3 separate regions of the Homo sapiens genome follow, and all the other regions are linked to region 1. Evidence: fine-mapped expression QTL. A gene starts in region 1. Each other region holds a variant in brackets. All regions are shown on one strand. Distances are from middle to middle.

Region 1 (6,516 bases):
GGTCCACTGAGTGGGAAGCACCAGGCAGTTTCCCAGGATTCTTGGGGCCAGTCAAGCTGGGTCCACATGAATCAGAAAAGAGGGAGGAAGGGGAGGCTTTGCTGGGGACGGTCGGGGGCCTCCACTCCCCTCCCCGGGTGATGAAGCATTAACATCCCACACGCAGGAAGCTGATGTAATTCATGCGTGTGTGCACCCATGATGGCCTGGGTGTGGGTGGGTGCATGTGCGTGTCTGCCAGGTTCATTTTTAAGGGCGTAGGGCATCCTCGTGTTCTTCCTGCATGCGCGTGTACCATGTGTGCACCCTGGAGGAGATAATGGAGGCAGACGACAGAAGACGAGGGCTTCTGAAAAGGCTCTTCTCCTTGCTGACAACCTCCGTCTCTCTGTGTGTACACACGTGCCAGCATCTGGATGGTGTGACTCTCAGTGCTTGTGTGTCAGGCAGAGTCGGGGGCAGGGGTCTTGGCCTGGGTGTGCCCGTGTGTTCCTGTGTCTGGGTCTCAGGGTATCTGTCAGTCTAACTGTATTTGCGTTTGTGTCTGGCCGTGCTCAGGTCTCGGTTGTTTGCACAGCACATGCGGCTGCTCAGCAGCCTCTGACAGCCAGGACAAAGGCCTCCGTAGACAGATGGCAGCATGGAGGACAGATCTGCCCGAGGAGTCCTCAAAGGGCCTCTTGGCCCCAGAATTTGACAGCAGGGCAGGGGCAGGGCCAGGTGAGAGGGAGGTGGAGGCCCTGCTGTGGGAGCCTGAGGCCTAAGTGGCAGAGACCTCTCTCCCTGCTGCCCTCCAAGAGGCCAAAGGAAGAATCCTTCTTGTCTCCTAAGGGTGGAAGGTAGTTAGAGCCAGGAGAGGGGCCTCCTGAGACCCCTGCCAGGCAGGCACCTTGGGAAGAAGAGAAGAGGAGAGGGCTTTGCCCAAGCAAGCTGGGAAGGTCCCAGGGTGAAAGCACCATTATGGTGCTCCACGGGACAACCCTCCCTCCATGGGAAGGGGTGGCAAGGCAAGCCTAGGACTCTGGACCCTCTCCTCAACCTGACCCAGCTTCCAGCCACAGGCACCCTCACCTCCTGGCAGCAAAGGGGAGCAGGTCCACATGGACCACTCCACCACGGCGTTCACCCTTCCTCCTCTCCACCGCTGTGGAGATCTTCTCCCATCAAGAGTCAGAGTACCACGATTCTAGACCTTGCTGAAGGTGACTAGGTGACCTCAGGCAGTTCATTTAGCCTCTCCGAGCCTCAGTTTCCTCACCTGTGCAATGGAGGCTTCAGCGCCTGCCCTGAAATATTGCTGTGAAGGGGGAAATTGCTCGTGCCACCTGAGGATTAATCATTACCCTGGAACCCTTCCCAAGGCCATCAAGGAACACGCACCCCTTACCAGACCTTCCAGCTGCTGGGGGCTCTCAGAGTGAGGCTGAGGTCATGGAGAAGGGAATGGGGGGCCCCCATGGCCAGCTGGACCTGATCACTGCCTCCCCACTCAGCCACAGCCCTCAGGGCCCTGTGCCAGTCCAGAAGCCCATTCAGGGACACCTTTGGCCAATGTTCTGTTTCATCTGCGAGGCAACCTTCCCCAGTGCCCCAACCATAGCGTTTTCCCCCAAACACCCTCAGGAAGGAGGGACCACTACCTGTGCAGGGGGGGCCAGGAGCCTCCTGAGAGCCTCATATGGGGAGGAAGTGGTACCATCTCACCCCCATTGCCTTTCTCTCCTACTTCCACCTGGCCAGCTTCCCTCAGTGCCCCTCCTGCCTCAGTGCCCCTTCCCTCAGTGTCCTTCCTGCCTGCCGCCCCAGGGGCCTGACCTCTGACTTGGCAGGGAGGGGAATGGAGCCCGGGGACAGAGGCCAATGAGCCCTGAGAACAGTGGATGTTCTTCCTGACCCCACCACCGGGCCTGTGCTATGACCCCAACAAGGACTCCGAGGGCATGCACAGGCTGGGGTCTGTTATGGTAGGGAGGGGGCCGCTCACCTCCGGAGACTGTGTGTGTGTGCAGGTGTGCGTACACAAGGTTTCTTCCCCAAGCCCAGGCGCCCCGCAGCTGGCACCAAACCCTGCAGGGCACGGAAACCGCCCCGTGAATTCCCACCGAGTCCTCAGATCCTGCCGAGCCAGGGGAGGCGACGAGGGGGCGCCCAACTTCGTGACGCGTGTGCCCCGCTCTGCCGCGGGGGTCAGGGACAGGGGAATGCGTCCTGTCTCTGGGGATGCAAGGACATCACCGCCCTCCCCGCTCAGGGTCCTTGATCTGAGGCCCCCACTTCCCTCCTCTGAGGACAGGAGCGCCACCCTCTGGGGGGCGCTAGGGCTTGGGCCCCTCCCCAGGGATGGAGGAAACGCGCCCACTTCCCACAGTCCCTCCTCTAAACCCCAGGCGCCCCCACCTCGAGGTGGGCGGAAAACTGGACTCCCCACCCACCCAGGGGGGTGGGACCAAAGCCCCCTGGCCGCGGCCTGGACCAAGTCCAACAGGCTGGGGGTTCAGCCGGCTCAGTCCAGGCCTCCCCCCACTTCTCCAGCTGCTGTCAAGACCGGGCTGCGCGAGCCCAGCTGCGCCCACCCCTCGCCCCTGGAGACCCGGGTCCCCCACGCGTTCGCCCCCACCCTCCGTCCCCGCCCGCCCGCGCGGGGTCTTCGCTGCGAGCCGACGGGAGTCTGGACACCTCTGTCCCCTTCCCCTTTCCAGGGCCGCAGCCCTGGCGGGGCGCACTCACCCAAGGGCCTGGGCCGGGGGCGTCCTGGGCTCGGCACTCTGGTGCCCGCGGCCGCCGCTGCAGCTCTGCTCAGATGCGGCCGGCGCTCGCCGCCGCCGCAGTTCGGGGAGGGGGACGTCACATGACCGCGGAGCGCTCCTTCCCCGGCGCCGCTCCCCACTCACTGCGGAGCCCAAGCCGCGGGCGCGGGAGCGGCGGGGAGGCCCCCGCCCTGCCGCCCCGCCCCGCCGCAGGTCCTGGAGGAGGGTTCTCGGTGCCCCCATTTTACAGGTGGGGAAACTGAGGACCAGAGAGGGGCAGGGACTGGCTCAAGGTTACACAGCTAGACAGTGGCAGAACCTGGGCGACAGCCCAGCTGTCCAGGCAACAGCTCATGCTCCAAGGGGACTGGGACAACTTCTGGATCAAGTGGAGACGTCGGGATAGGTGGGGCCCACGGCCCCCATGGGCTCCGCTTGTCTGCAGGCGCGGGAGGAAGGCGCACAGGCTTCGCTGGGCGAGAAAGCTGCTGTGCCCTGGCTGACGCCCTCCTCACCCGGGCGCTCGGCGCGCTTCCTGGCAGAGGCCACGCGGTTGACCCTCGCCAGCCCATTCGCGGCTCTTGGACTTTGTCTCTGGACTGGGCAGCTCGCCCCCGCCCCAGCCTAACCCGGGCCCAGGGCGGGTGTGGGGAGGGGAGCCACAGGCTACGGAGAAGTGGAAGGGAGGCACCCGGAAGAGAGTGGGATCAGAACAAGAGTGAAAACCCAGGCAGGGAGGGGGCGGCAGAGATCACCTCGGCCTGACTTCCAAGGCCCAGGGAGAGTTAGAGACTTGCCCAAGGTCCACAGCAAGTGAGCGGCCTGCCCACTCGAGTCCCTTCTTTGATGGTCAACAGAGCCTGAGGCTCCTGTGCCCCACTCCCCACCAAGGGGGAGCCCTCACCCACACCTCTTTCTGTTCTCCACTGAGCTCCCTCCCCGGGGAACAGCCCACATGAAGCAAAGAAACACGCAGTGGGTCGGCAAGGCCAGAACTGGGGACAACGGGTGAGGGGTATGGTTGGTGGCTCCAAGGTCATGAACTCGTCACAGAACACTCGTGTTCCAGGGGGATCTCTGAAATCTCTGGATCTCACCCCAATGTTCTAAGAACTGGGAAAACAGGCTGCAAAAGGTACAAAGACAGACCTCTTTCTCAACCATTTCGAATTGGTGGGTCAAGCCGACAGGGCCCTCCAAGGTCAACAAGTCCAATAGGCCCACTTGACAGATAATATTTAGGGAGGGGAAAGTCCAAGACATGTACTCAATATATTTCTTGAGCATCTACTGTGTGCTTAAAACCACAACTGTTACTTCCAGCTCCCACTATTTTCCCGGCCACATGGGCTGCATTTCACAAAAGGAAAGATCCGAGGTCTTCAGCAACTCTTACATCAGCCTCTGGAGGATCTGAGACATGCAAGCCTCCGGGTTTTCAGTCCCATAGGGGCTGGGGACCAGAGCCATGTTTTCCGGTCAAGACTCTAATCCCCGTGGAGAAAAGGTGAATAAGGGGGAATAGCAGGAAATGCCCCACCCTCTTCCCACGCATCCACCCACCTGTGAAAGGGCAGAGGGGAAGGTAGATCAGGCACTTGTTCTTTTCAGTCCTCCCTCCAGCAAGCTTCCCTAGCTGTATATGGGAAAGAGACCCCAGCCCAGGGGGGTTTCTCAAACTTCTAAGAGTGCAGGAGCGGTCTGTAGACTCAGATTCAGATTCAGTGGGCCTGGAGCCTGAGCTCCTGCATTTATAATGAAGCTTCGTGGCTGCAGACATCCTGAGCAGCACTGGTAGTACAAGGCAAGTTGTCAGGGCAGGAGGAAGACTCCTGCGGTATCACATGCTCACTCATGGACCACCCAACCCGGGGGGCCCTTTGATCTCCTGCCTAGGAATACACCAGGACTATATAGTTGGCTCAAACACTGTAATAAAAAGGCAAGAAGTTGAATGAGGCTGGCCGAGGCGCTTCTGGGGATGATGGTGAAGGGACTGTGGGGCATAGCAACTGCCCTAGACAGGTATGTCCTGCAGGGCTCTGGTCCTGGGAGATGCTTGGTCAAATACATCCTACTTAGGAAATGCCAGCAGAATGCCTATAGACCTTCAAGGGCAGCATGTACTGGGTGGGGCTGGCTCATCTTCAGCAGGGGCGGGGCTCACAGATCTCAGAAGTACATGGATTCCAGGATCCTTTTAAGCACCATCTCTCTACCCATCCTCTCGCTTTTTTATGCATTGCTCCCTGAATTCAATTCTGAGCACAATCTTCATGCTTCTTGCTTCCCTAACTCCTGTTCCAAAAGGGCCCCTTTCTCCTCCACGCTTTAAGACAGAGACCCTCAATTCTGGCCAGGCATTGCTGATGGTACATCCCAGAGTGCTGAGTGGAGACAAAGGTGTCCCACCTGAGCTGGAGGGAGGGGGCAGATGGAGGCACTGGAGATGCAGAAATGCAGCAAGCCAAGGGGTACAGCTGTGTGACCTCTTCATGGTCCCATAACCTTCTGGAGTCTGGACCTGCAGACTCCAAGGTCCTTAAGAGCTCAAGAGCCTATTAGCCTGGGGGTACTGAATGTCCCCGACCCTGGCTGAGCAGACCAAAGAACGAAGTCTCTTCTATGCCAGGCGTCTCTATTTCTTCTTTATAATCAAGGAGCTTTTCAATTACAGCATTTTCCCCTTTACAGAAAACCTCCCTCAATGCAAGAGGCTTATAATCTCCCATGTGTCCTGGGGGGCACCATTCTGAGACTGTCAGGGCCCCTGGCGAGGAGGCAGCACGTGCCGTAGGGGGCTGGGCACAGAGCTTGGCATGCAGCCTAGCTACTGAGGGGGAAGATTGGACAAAGGCCCCGGAGCTTTGCTTTCCCTGTCCTATTTCAATCCAAACCACTCAGGACTGACCACTCACGCATGGCTGCCTCTGGGCACAAGCCTTGTCTCAGACACTTAATACATTGCGACCCAGCCACCATCTCTGTGCTCCCTATCACTGAGAAATGAAAGCTGGCTTTAAAAATCTGGCATCCAAAAAGGCTGGAGAACGAAAACATGGGTGGCACCACGGTAAACTCCAAATAATGCATGAGACTGCAGGTGAGGGAGGGGGGAACAGTCCTAAAATGGGAATGATGCCTCTTGGAAATAACTCCCCATCTCTGCCCGCCCACTCCTTCCCAGTCAGATCAAATGGGAGAAAAACTGAGATAGGAACTGCCCACCAGAGCAAGTAGGGGAAGAAAACCCCAAAGCAGCAAGTCCTCAAGGTGTGCTGTCCACAGAGCCACAGGTAAGGTCTAGGAAAGGCCGGCAAGGAGGGTGGGCTTCAGGGGCGGCTTGGAGCAGAGGACAGTTCCACTCTAACCACAGCAAGGCAGGATGAAGAGTGGCAGTCGGCGCCAGGGCACACGCATCAGGGAAGGGCCAGCGGCCCCCGTCTGGGTGGGAGGCTGCCAACCTGGTGCAGCAGACATGACAGAGACTACCCCTGGGGTTAGAGGACTTTGGATCATGAATAGTTAGGAAGTCCCTGTTTTGAGGACAAAGAAGAAAAGCCTGAAGGTAGGGACAGTACTGGTCAAACCAAAGTAGTAAAAAGAGCTCTCCCCCAAGGGGCCACGGGAAAACTTCTAACAGATTCCAAAGTAGTCATTCATTTTTCCTTACTGAGGATGTATCATGCGGGCCGCTGTGGGAATACAGTGGTAAGATGGCCAGAGCCCTGCTCTCAGGGAGCTACAACAGTCTAGCACTAATTAGGTT
Region 2 (6,516 bases), 110 kb after region 1:
TCAGGGCAGCAAAGCAAGACCCCATCTCTATTTTTAAAAAACTATGTAACTGGCTGGGTGTGGTGGCTCTACTAAAAATACAATAATTAGGTGGGTATGGTGGCATGCGCCTGTAATCCCAGCTACTCGGGAGGCTGAGGCAGGAGAATCACTTGAACCCAAAAGGTGGAGGTTGCAGTGAGAGCAGATAACGCCACTGCACTCCAGCCTGGGTGACAGAGCGAGACTCCGTCTCAAAATAATAATAATAATAATAATAATAATAATAATAATAATAATAAGGCAGGTATGTATTTGGGGCTCCTGCTAAATGAGATTTTAGCTTCTCTTGCCACACACAAAATTTGTAACTGTGAGATAACAGATGTCAATCTGCTTCATTACAGTTACCATTTTACTATCTGTATGTATGCTATGTTATATATCATAAACATACATAAGAATATTTTTTAAGAAAGAATAGGACCGGTCGCAGTGGCTCATGCCTGTAATCCCAGCACTTTGGGAGGCCAAGGTGGGCAGATCGCGAGGTCAGGAGATCGAGACCATCCTAGCCAACACAGTGAAACCATATCTCTACTAAAAATACAAAAATTAGCCGGGTGTGGTGGGGCGCCCCTGTAGTCCCAGCTACTCAGGAGGCTGAGGCAGGAGAATTGCTTGAACCCGGGAGGCAGAGGTTGCAGTGAGACGAGATTGCACCACTGTACTCCAGCCTGGCAACAGAGCAAGATTCTGTCTCAAAACAAACAAACGAAAAAAGAATAGCCAGGTGCGGTGGCTCACACCTGTAATCTCAACACTTCGGGAGGCTGAGGTGGGCAGATCACCTGAAGTTAGGAGTTTGAGACCAGCCTGGCCAACATGGTGAAACCCCGTCTCCACTAAACTACAAAAATTAGCCAAGCATGGTGGCCCATGCCTGTTGTCCCAGCTACTCCGGAGGCTGAGGCCCAAGAATCACTTGAACCTTGGGAGGCGGAGGTTGCAGTGAGCCAAATTCACGCACTGCACTCCAGCCTGGGCAACAAAGCTAGACTCTCTCAAAAATAAATAAATAAATAAATAAATAAATAAATAAATAAATAAATAAGGCAGCTCTACATGCATGAATAGAAACAAGTTGCAACAAAGTATGTATTGTGACTCCCCTTTGTTCTTTTTCCTTTGAGACAGGGTCTTGCTCTATCGCCCAAGCTGGAGTGCGGTGGCATGGTCTTGGCTCACTGCAACCTCCACCTCCCAAGCTTAAGCCATCCTCCCACCTCAGTCTCCAGTGTAGCTGGAACTATGGGTCCTCGTTAGGGTTATTTTGTTTGGTTGGTTGGTTTTTATTGAGACAGAGTCTCACTCTGTCACCCAGGTTGGCGTGCAGTGGCTCAATCTTGGCTCACTGCAACCTACACCTCCTGGGTTCAAGCAATTCTCGCGCCTCAGCCTCCTGAGTAGCTGGAATTACAGGTGTATGCCGCCACCATGCCCGGCTAATTTAGTAGAAATGGGTTTTTGCCATGTTGACCAGACTGGTCTCAAACTCCTGACCTCAAGTAATCCTCCCACCTCGGCCTAACAAAGTGTTGGGACTACAGGCGTAAGCCACCGTGCGTGGCCCTCATTAGGGTTTTGGGACTAGAGCTACAAAGCCACTGAAGTAAGGTGGCATGACACTGGCTTTCTAGAGTGCTTCACACATTTCTGTAATGTTTTAATTTAGTAATAGTCATATGATGTTTCCCTAATGAGAACAAAACAGACATTGTACTCCCTATACACGGCTGGAAGCATAAGTAAATCCAGCCTTTGAAAATTCATATCAAGGCTGGGCATGGTGACATGCACTTGTAATCCCAGCTATTCAGGAAGCTGAGGAAGGAAGATCCCTTGAGCCCAGGAGTTTGAGACCAGCCTAAGCAACATAGTAAGACCCCGTCTCAAAAACAAAACAAAACAAATTTCACATCAAAAGATTAACTGTAACAAAAAGAAATTGTAACAAAATAAATACATATTAAACATATGAAACCCTTTGCACTTAGATCAGAAAGTGTGACTAACACATTATGTTGGTGAGGGTATGATGTATATGTAAGATACTCTTACACATTGACAGGGAAATGTAAAGAGAAACCCTCATTCTGAGGGGCAATTTAGCAACATGGATCAATATGAAAAACACACATCCCTTACCCAACAATTTTACTTCCAGGAACTTACTTGACCACCAACCTCACTGTTAACAAACAAGTCTGCCCTCAAGACACATAATATTTGCAGAATTCTGTGGACAGAGGATTTAGTACACACTGCTTTCATCCTGTGATTGCCCTAAGTACTTTCAGAAATGTAAACAGTCCTGACACATGTGGTCTTTGAATATGGTCAAACACCTCATTCTTCAGCTTTGGTATCTCATAACAAATTGTTGCATAAAGTATGAAAAATACATATTGGTGATACTATTTATTTATTTAGTCTCTTCTTGCAAAGAGAAGAAATAAACAAAAGGAGAAAGGCTCATGTCTGGAATCCCAGCAATTTAGGAGGCTGAGGAGGGAGGACTGCTAGAGCCCAGGAGTTTGAGACCAGCCTGGGCAATGTGACAAGACTCTGTCTCTATAAAAAAGGAGAAAGTGAATAGTGTCTTGTCTCAAAAAAAAAAAAAAAAAAAAAAAAAAGAAGAAAGTGAGTAGAAAGAGAGCTTTTTGGATATCTAAATAAAAGCTGACAGGGCCAGGCACAGTGGCTCACGCCTGTAATCCCAGCACTTTGGGAGGCCAAGGCGGGGGGATCACTTGAGGTCAGGAGTTCGAGACCAGCCTGGCCAATATGGCAAAACCCCATCTCTACTAAAAATACAAAAATTAGCCGGGCGTGGTGCCTGCAATGCCAGCTACTCGGGAGGCTGAGGTAGGAGAACTGCTTGAACCTGGGAGGCGGAGGCTGCAGTGAGCCGAGTTTGTGCCGCTGCACTCCAGCCTGGGCAACAAGAGTGAAACTCTGTCTCAAAGAAAAAAAAAAAAAATTAGCCAGGTGTGGTGGTGCATGCCTGTAATCCCAGCTACTCAGGAGGCTGAGGCAGGAGAATCGCTTGAACATGGGAGGCGGAGGTTGCAGTGAGCCAAGATTGCGCCACTACACTCAGCCTGGACAACAGAGCCAGACTCCATCTGAAAAAAAAAAACAAAACACCAAAAATTAGCCGAGTGTGGTGGAGCATGCTTGTAGTCACAGCTACTCGGGATGCTGAAGTAGGAGGATGGCTTGAGCCCCTGGGAGGCAGAGGTTGCATTGAGCCAAGATTGCACCACTGTACTCCAGCCTGGGCAACAGAGCCAGACCTTGTCTCATAAAATTAACTAATTCATTAATTAAAACTGCTCAAACCTTGGGTGAGGTGTGGCTTCTTACAAGACCAAAAGCGTCAAAAAAAAAATAGTACAATGTTGGGGCCAGGTGGTTCACACCTGTAATCCCAGTACTCTGGGAAGCTGAAGCAGGACTGCTTGAGGCTAAAGGTTCAAGGTCAGCCTGGGTAACATAGTAAGACCCCAACTCTACAAAAAATACCAAAAAAATTAGCTGGGTGTGGTGGTACAACTTGCAGTTGTACCTACTGGGGATGTTGAGGCAAAAAGATCACTTGAGACCAGGAGTTTAAGGCTACAGTGAGCTACAATCACACCACTGCACTCCAGGTTGGGCAACAAAGCAAGAACCCTGCTTCACTGATAAGAATAAGAAGGCGGAGAAGAAGAAGAAATTGGACTACATCAACATGAAAAGCTTTTGTACTGAAAATGATACCACCAATAAAATTAAAAGCCATAGAAATTAGAAAAAATATTTGCAAATCATATATTTAATAAGGGACTTATATGCAGTATATATAAAGAACACAACTTGGCTGGATGCAGTGGCTCACGCCTGTAATCCTAGCACTTTGGGAGGCTGAGGTGGGCGTATCACAAGGTCAGGAGTTTGAGACCAGCCTGGCCAGCATAGTGAAACCCCGTCTCTACTAAATATAC[CA/C]AAAAAAAAAAAAAAAAAAAATTAGCTAGGCGTGGCGGTGTGCGCCTGTAGTCCCAGCTACTCGGGAGGCTGAGGCAGGAGAATCGCTTGAACCTGGGAGGCGGAGGTTACAGTGAGCCGAGATGGCATCACTGCACTCCAGCCTGGGTGACAGAGTGAGACTCCGTCTGAAAAAAAAAAACAAAACAAAAACAAGACCAAAAAAAGATCACAACTCAATAACAAAAGGCAACTCAATTTAAAAGCACGCAAAGGATTTAAACAGACATTTCTCAAAAAAGATATATGAATGGCCAATAAGTACACAAAAAGATGTTTAACGTGATTAGTCATCAATGAAACACAAATCAAAACATAAGACACCACTTCGCACCCACTAGGATGGCTAAAAGAAAAAAGGCAGTAACAAGTATAGGGACATAGAGCAATTGGAATCCTCATATACTGCTTGTGAATATGTAAAATAGCGCAGCCACTCTGGAAAGTAACCTGACAATTCCTCAAAATATTAAACACAGACATGGTGGTTCGTGCCTACAGTCCCAGCTACCAGGGAAGCTGGGGCAGGAGTATTGATTGAGCCCAGGAGTTCAAGGACAGCCTACACAACATAGCAAGACCCTCATCTTAAAAAAAAAAAAAAAAAAAAAGCCAAAAAAAGGCCATGAACAGTTTCATTCATGCAATCCAAGCATTTCAGGGGGCCAAGGCAGGAGGATCACTTGAAGCAAGGAGTTCAAGACCAGCTTGGGCACCAAAGTGGGACTCCATTTCCACAAATTTTTTTTTTTTTTTGGAGACGGAGTCTCGTTCTGTCACCCAGGCTGGAGTGCAGTGGCGTATCTCAGCTCACTGCAAGCTCTGCCTCCCGGGTTCGTGCCATTCTCCTGCCTTTGCCTCCCGGGTTTATGCCATTCTCCTGCCCCAGCCTCCCGAGTAGCTGGGACTACAGGCATCCGCCACCATGCCCGGCTAATTTTTTGTATTTTTAGTAGAGACGGAGTTTCACCACGTTAGCCAGGATGGTCTCGATCTCCTGACCTCGTGATCCGCCAGCCTTGGCCTCCCACAGTGCTGAGGTTACAGGCGTGAGCCACCACGCCCAGCAAAAAAATTTTGTTTAATTAGCCTCGTGTTGTGGCATGTGCCTGTAGTGGCAGGAGGCTGAGGCGGGAGGATTGCTTGAGCCCAGGAGTTCAAGGCTGCAGTGAGCCATGATTGCACTGCAATACAGTCTGTGTTACAGAGTGAGACCTCATTAAAAATAAATAAATAAATAAAAGTTAAAAGAGCTGGGTGCGGTGGCTCAAGCCTGTAATCCCAGCACTTTGGGAGGCCGAGGTAGGTGGATCACCTGAGGTCAGGAGTTCAAGACCAGCCTGGCCAACTTGGCGAAACCCAGTCTCTACTAAAAAATACAAAAAATTAGCCGGGTGTGGTGGTGGGCGTCTGTAATCCCAGTGACTCAGAGGCTGAGGCACAAGAATCGCTTGAACCTAGGAGGCAGAGGTTGCAGTGAGCCGAGATGGCGCCACTGCACTCCAGCCTGGGCAACACAGAGAGACTCCGTCTCAAAAAAAAAATAATAATAATAATAAAAAGTTAAAAGTTACCACACAACCCAACAATCCCACTTCTTGCTCTATAACCAAGAGAAATAAAAATAAATGCCCACACAAAAACTACTACACTAATGTTCATAGCAACATTATAATAGCCAAAAAGTAGAAATGACCCAAATGTCTATCAGCAGATGAATGCAAATTAAAAATGTGGTAGATACAGAGATATGATGGCATATTATTGATCAATAAAAGGAAAAGAGGCAACGAGCACATGAAAAGACGCTGAACTCATTAGTCACTAGGAAAATGCAAATCAAAACTACAAAGATGCATCACTTCACACCCAAGTAGGAGGGCCTAACCAGAAAAACAGAAAATAGTACCTGTTTATGAGGATGATGAAGCATTTGAACCCTCATACATCACTGGTGGGAATGTAAATCGGTACAACCACTGTGGAAGTTTCGCGGTTCGGTTAAGTTAAACACAGAATTGACTGTGTATGACCCAGTAATTCCACTCCCAGGTAAAGAACTGAAATCAGATGTTCAGACCAAAACTTGTATGCAAATGTTCAGAGAAGTACTACTCAAAATAAGCAAAAGGTGGAAATAATCAAAATGTCCCTCAACTGATGAATAGATATATAAAATGTGGTATTATCCATAAAATGGAATACTACTCAGCCGTAAGGAATAAAGTAGTGACACATGCGCAGCAGGGATAACCCTTGGAAACATTACGTTAAGTGAAACCAGACACAAATGGCCACGTACTGTATAATTCCATTGCTATGAAATATTAATAGAGAAATCCAGAGACAGAAAGTAGATTAGCAGTTGCCAGGGGCTGGGCGAGGGGGGAAAATGGGAAGTGACTAACAGATGCTCAGTTTCCTTTTAGGATAATGAAAAGTTCTGGA
Region 3 (6,516 bases), 42 kb before region 1:
CCGAGAAGGCCAACCCCAGGCTGTCTAGCACGCAGGGCCCAGGGCTATGGGCTGCTCTCTCTCTCTCTCGTCTCCTGATGGGAAGACTGAGGCCCAGGGAGGGGAAGCTGTGGTCCGAGGGCATACAGCCCTTGGTGAGAACCCAGGGCTCCTCCTGAGATGCTCAGGGGAAGAGGGACTGGGAGCTTCATTCATGAACCCAGCTGTCAAGTGAGGGCTGCCATTGAGTCTCTCCCTTCCTGCCAAGCCCCGGATCCACATGCCCCAGTCTTGGGCTGTTGCCCAGACAGAGAAAACAGGAGTCAGTCTCAGGAATCTCCTGCTGCTGCTCCCAGCAGCCCCACGTGGCACCCCCATGAAGGTGGTGGCCCCACATATGGACACCATTCCTTGGCCATCTGCCCTCCCAGCCTAGGCAAGGTACGTGGCCTTTATTCCAGGCCAGAGCTCTCAGGGAGGAGCCTGGTGGATTTTGCCTCTGCTATTTTCTGGCTGTGTGACCTTGGGAAGACCACTTTACTTCTCTGATCTCCTGCATCCTCAACTAGATAATGCCTACTACCCAAGGTTTACTAAAAGGACCAGGTGGCATGATGTCTGTGGGTGTGCTTTAGAAACTGCAAAAAGTACTGCAAAAGTGAGAGCTTGTCACCCCTGCATCAGAGAGGCCCTAACACCAGGCCCTCTGGTCAGACAGCTTGCATCCGGTCGTGGCCCCACCACATCCAACCTGAGTGACTTCGGGCAAGTGACTGAACCTCTCTGAGCCTCAATTTTCTCATCTGCAAAATGGGACTGATTATAGTAGCTATCACATAGTCCAAGGATGAGATGAAATACTGCAAATAAAGCATTAAGTACTCTCTTAGTACACAGTAAGTCTCAATAAATATTAGAGGTTATTTCTGCTATTTGATGTCCTGCATACATTGTTCAGTTATCTATTGCTTTACTGGACTGTGGCTCCTTGAGAGCAGGATCTGTATCAGATTGGTTTCTGGTCGCTTGGCACCCAGCACAAGGCTTGGCATGAAGCAGGTACTGGGCAAACGTTTGATTTTAACGATAATGATAGAGGCTCGTTGACAGGGCTCTTGCTCTGTGCCGGATGCTGTGCCTGGGCCGCCCTGTCTGTACTTTGCAGCAATCTTCACAATGACCCTGTGAAGTGGGTCCTCTCATTGCACCTGGTTTACAGATAAGGAGACTGATGGTGACGTTGATTGTGGAGATGATGAAGATAGCTGGGGGGCTGGTTTATTCCCAGCTGTTTTGCTTAGATTCGCCCTAAGCCCCTCCCTGCCACAGTCTACAGACCTAGGTTCAACGTTTGTGACTGCACCAGCCTCACCCCGGGCTCAGGAGTGGCAACCCCTTAGGAGCTAAACCCCATCAGCATCTGCCTGAACATTTTACCTTTGCCCAAAAGTCATTCTTGGGCCTTTCCCAGCCCTGGGCATGTGTCGGAGGTAGGGGGCAGACCAGGGGCCGTAGGTATGGAGGGGGACACTTACCTTAGGGTAGAGTGAAGGAGTATAGGAGGGAACTAAGTTCACTCGTGACAGGTCTAGTGCCTGAGGGAAGTGCTGGTTCTGCCCATCGCTCCTCCTGGAAGAGAAAGAGTCTGAGGTCAGGGAGAGCCCCAAGCCAGGAAATTTGGGAACTCTGGGAGAGTCACTCTCAGAGCTGGGGGATGTGAGGGAGGATAGACTTCACGGAGGAGAGGGTCATGGGTTCCCCAAGAGGAGGGAGAGGAGGGGCTTCATTAGCAGGGCTACCACACAGGCTTCTCCTTCCCCGGAGATCAGAGACGTGGACAGGGTCTCTCCCCAAGCTCTCCATTAGGCCTCCAGCCAAGCAGTGACCTACTCTGAAGATGAGTAGACTGAGGCAGGGGCACTGAGGGTTGCTGTGGAGGGTGAGCTTTCTGGACTAAGCAGGGTGCCCCCGCCTCTACAATGGACCCCTCCCTGAGCCTCTGGGAGTAGCCGCCTTGGCATTGAGGGGCTACCAGGGCTACC[G/A]CTATTACGAATGACAGTGACCGTGACCATAACTGACGCTCATTGGGCCTACCACATGCCAGGCCCTGTGCTGAGCCCTCGTTCTAGGCCCGAGGGCATGGCCTCCTCACCACACTGGTATTCCCACTTTACAGACAGGACCCAGCTGTGCACAGAGGTCACACGGCTGGCCGGCAGCAAAGCTAGCATCTGCATGAGACCTGCCTGAGTCTAAGCCCGGACTCTCTGCCCACACCACACCCTTCCCTGAGGAAAGAAAGCAGGTCTGGCGAGGGTGAAGTCAGCTCCTATCACCCTAAAAAGCCTGCCGAGGCCACCTCTGGGGCAGGGAGAGGAAATGCCCAGTGGTTCCCGGGATCCTGGGGCTGGGCAAGCAGGCCTGGCTTCCGCTGCTGCCTAGGGCCACCCTGACGTGGCTGCACCTCTGCTCAGGTCCCATCAAGAGAGGCTGGTCCCTCGAGGGTGACTCAGATGATCGCTGGTGGCCTACAGCAGGCTTGAGTCAGGCAGAGCCGGGGCTGCCACACCCCAAGAGGGGAAGGACCCGAAAAAGTCTGGCCCAGGAAGAAGACTGAGAAAGCTGTGAGCCTCCCTTCTTCTTTTTTTTTTTTTTTTTTTTTTATGACAGAGTTTCGCTCTTATTCCCCAGGCTGGCGTGCAAATGGCTTGATCTCGGCTCACTGCAACCTCTGTCTCCCGAGTTCGAGCGATTCTCCTGCCTCAGCCTCCTGAATAGCTAGGATTGCAGGCATGCGCCACCATGCCTGGCTAATTTTGTATTTTTAGTAGAGACGGGGTTTCTCCATGTTGGTCAGGCTGGTCTCGAACTCCCGACCTCAGGTGATCTGCCCGCCTCAGCCTCCCAAAGTGCTGAGATTATAGGTGTGAGCCACTGCGCCCAGTCTGAGCCTCCCTTCTAATTCCACTCAGCCCAGCTACTCCAGCAGGAGAAATGGCCCGGAGGAACCATCCACAGCCCCACTTATGCACTGGAGGCCTCTCCACCTCCCAGGAGTGATGGCATCTTACAAGAGGGGTCTGCGCTGGGCAATGCTTGACCCAAAAGGACAGATATGGTGGCAGTGGCATTTCAAGCCTGTGGCATCAGTGTGGGGGAGATAGTCTCAGACACTGACTGGCTAGGTGAGCTTGGGTTAGTGACACAGCCTCTCTCAGCCTCAGTTTCCAAAAACATTCATCGCAGAGCCTGGGCAGCTCATGGGAATTCACTCAATGAAAACTTTCACATCATTTGTTCATGGTAAACTCTGGCTCCCCAAGTTTCACTATTTGTTGAATGACTGAATGAATGAATGAAGGTTGGGAGTCACTGAAGGGTTGTGAGCAAAGGAACATCCCTACGCACAGGTTCCTGCATATTGCAGGGTACACTGACATGGGGAGAGTCTGGAGTGGGAGGGTGGGGACTAAAGAGAGGTCCATAGAAATAGTTACCGGCAGGCTGGGCGTGATGGCTCACACCTGTAATCCCAGCACTTTGGGAGGCCAAGGCGGGCAGATCACCTGAGGTCAGCAGTTCAAGACCAGCCTGGCCAACCATGGCCAATATGGTGAAACCCCATCTCTACTAAAAAAAAAAAAAAAAAAAAAAAAAAAAAAAAATACAGGCTGGGCGTGGTGGCTCACACCTGTAATCCCAGCACTTTGGGAGGCCGAGGTGGGCAGATCATGAGGTCAAGAGATCCCGAGAACATCCTGGCCAACATGGTGAAACCCCGTCTCTACTAAAAATGCAAAAATTAACTGGGCATGGTGGTGCACGCCTATAGTCCCAGCTACTTGGGAGGCTGAGGCAGGAGAATCGCTTGAACCCGGGAGGCGGAGGTTGCAGTGAGCTGAAATTGCGCCACTGCACTCCAGCCTGGCGACAGAGTGAGACTCCATCTCAAATAAAAAAAATACAAAAATTAGCTGGGCACAGTGGTGGGCACCTATAACCCCAGCTACTTGGGAGGCTGAGGCAGGAGAATTGCTTGAACCTGGGAGGCAGAGTTTGCAGTGAGCTGAGATCACACCACTGCACTCCAGCCTGGGCTCCAGAGGGAGACTCCACCTCAGAAAAAAAAAAAGGAGGGGGGAAGGGAGGAAGGGAGGGAGGGTGGCTTCCAGGCAATTCCACTGAGGCTCCCATGGGGACTCTTTAGTGAGACCTACTATGTGACTGGGACTGCGTCAAGCATATACTCTCCCCCAACTACTGTGCAGGAAGGTTGGTGTTATTTCTCTCCATTTTCACAGATGGAGAAGCTGAAGCTCAGAGAGGTGAAGCCACTTCCCCTAGCGAATGGGGGATGGAGCTGGAATTTAAAGTACATGCCCTAGAGGAAGTAGGGATCCTGCAGTGGGGTGGAGGGCAGAGGCTGCCTGGGGGTCAGGAAGTCCTGGGGTAGAAGCCCGGTAAAGCTGGAGTGCTGGGTGCGGCCGTGGCTGCCCAGTGGCGGCTGTTGCTTGTGATCAGGCTAGTCCAGCGGTGCCCTTCTGTCTTCCCCTAGGCTCATATGATAGCCATGCAGCAGTCCCTGACAAACCCCCTTCCAGAACCCTCTCTGCCTCAGTCTCCCCATGTGTAGGTGTCCATTTCACTCAGGATTGCTCATGTGGGTGCAGAACCAGAGCGGCCTCTGAAGGCCAGGGTGCTCTGGCTTGCACCTGGGACCCCATCCCAGGGCCCTTGGCTCTCCAGTTCCTGGCTGGCCACAGTCCTGTCCCCCGAAGGCAACTCCACCTAAAAAGCCACTGCTGAGGCCGTAAGGGGCAGGGGAAGGGAGGGGCTCCAGGATGGGGACAGAGAAGGAAACTGGAGGCTCTGGGCACTGCCTGTCCATCCATCCCCAGACCTGAAGGGGTAGAAGAGGGACAGGAATGACAAAGCCACGTCCTGCCGGGCGTCTTGCATAATCTAATTTAATCCTCACAGTTCCCCAAAGAGGCAGATGTTCAGAAACCTCCTGCTTTCCACACGAAGCTCAGAAAGGTGCGTTAACTTGCCCAAGCTCACACAGGCAATGAGGCAGGCCAGGCATTTGGACACAGGTTTGTTGACTTCAGAGCCCAAGATCTGAACTTTATAACATGTACGTCCAATCCTGTGGACCTCCCCACAGAGCCTTACGACTTCCAGCTCAGGAACACGATCCAGCACCTCAAGTCAAGTCGGAAAGGTAATAGTAACAACAGCAACGGCCGACACAGCTGATACAGAGCTTACTATGTGCAGGCTCTGCTCTACTTTATTGTATTAACTCATTTAATTTGCATTTTTCAAAGGAGGGAACTAAGACACAGAGAGGTTAAGTAACTTGTCCAAGGTCACACACAGTAAATGAAAGTCTGAAGATTTGACCTCCCCCAACATCTGGTTGCAGTGCCCTTAACACTATACCACTGACACTTAGTAAATAGTAGTTGCTCAATAAATACTTTTTTCTTTTTCCCTTTTTTTTTTTTGTTTTTTGAGACAGGATCTTGCTCTTGCTGCCCAGGCTGGTGTGCAGTGGCGTGATCAAAGCTCACTGCAGCCTTAAACTCCTAGGCTCAAGCCATCCTCCCTCCTCAGCCTCCCAAGTTGCTGGGACTACAGGCACCACCATGCCCAGCTAATTTTAGTAGAGATGAGGTCTCCCTATGTTACCCAGGCTGGTCTGGAACTTCCGGGCTCAAGAGATCCTCCCACCTCAGCCTCCCAAAGTGCTGCGATCACAGGAATGAACCACTGCCCCTGACCTTTTGTTGTTGTTAAGAAATGGGGTCTTGCTCTGTCACCCAAGCTGGAGTGCAGTGGCATGATCATGGCTCACTGCAGCCTTGAACTGCTGGGCTCAAGTGATCCTTCCCCCTCGGCCTCCTAGTAGCTGGGACTACAGGTGTGTGCTCGGCTAATTAAAAATAAATTTTTTGTTGTTGTTGTTGAGATGGGTGTCTTGCTGTGTTGCCCAGGCTGGTCTGGAACTCCTGGCCTCAAATAAGCCTCCCACCTTGGCCTCCCAAAGCACTAGGATTACAGGCATAAGCCACTGCACCTGGCCCCAATAAATACTTTTGAAGCAATGAATGAAAGCCTCTTCCCTCCTCACCAGCCCTCTGCCCTTCTCTGCTTCACGTCCTTTCCTGCTCAGCCTTCCTCACCAGCTCGCCCATCTCTGCCCCACCTTTCCCAGCACCCCTCCAATCCCCTTCTTCCTCTGGCCTCTGCAGACCACCCACAATGTGGTCGTTTCCTCCCACTTCACGAACCCGAACCTCTCTGTCCCTCCCCTTCTCTCTCCTATCCCACCCTGGTCTCCTCCTGGTCTTCTCCATTCAGTTCACATCATGGATGTCCCCCTGGTCTCTATCCCTTCCCCACGTCTCCAAAAACCATCCAACCCCCTGGCCTGGCTCAGCTTAAAATGCTTTGCATTCCTCCTGGGCGGCAGCAGCTGCGGGGAGCCCAGAGCATGCCGGGACATGGGGCGCTCTCCCCTCTCCTCCTTCC

What was found. PIP is the estimated chance that this variant, and not a neighbour inherited with it, causes the effect.
Region 2: its variant is fine-mapped to the expression of RAP1GAP in whole blood (INTERVAL, PIP 0.99).
Region 3: its variant is fine-mapped to the expression of RAP1GAP in esophagus mucosa (GTEx, PIP 0.93).

The regions. Positions count from the first base shown.
Region 1 is chr1:21,666,527-21,673,042 of GRCh38, forward strand. It overlaps RAP1GAP (RAP1 GTPase activating protein), which reads right to left and starts at 2,831. Exons shown (of 25, transcript NM_002885.4): 1 at 2,728-2,831. RefSeq lists enhancers at 1-32, 3,551-4,750 and a silencer at 2,753-2,902.
Region 2 is chr1:21,773,944-21,780,459 of GRCh38, forward strand. All of the region lies in intron 1 of USP48 (ubiquitin specific peptidase 48), which reads right to left. Among named protein-coding and RNA genes, the nearest start is that of USP48, 5.9 kb to the right of the region's middle. The variant CA/C (reference allele first, on the strand shown) is at 4,029.
Region 3 is chr1:21,624,790-21,631,305 of GRCh38, forward strand. It overlaps RAP1GAP (RAP1 GTPase activating protein), which reads right to left. Exons shown (of 25, transcript NM_002885.4): 3 at 1,515-1,608. Among named protein-coding and RNA genes, the nearest start is that of RAP1GAP, 41 kb to the right of the region's middle. The variant G/A (reference allele first, on the strand shown) is at 2,022.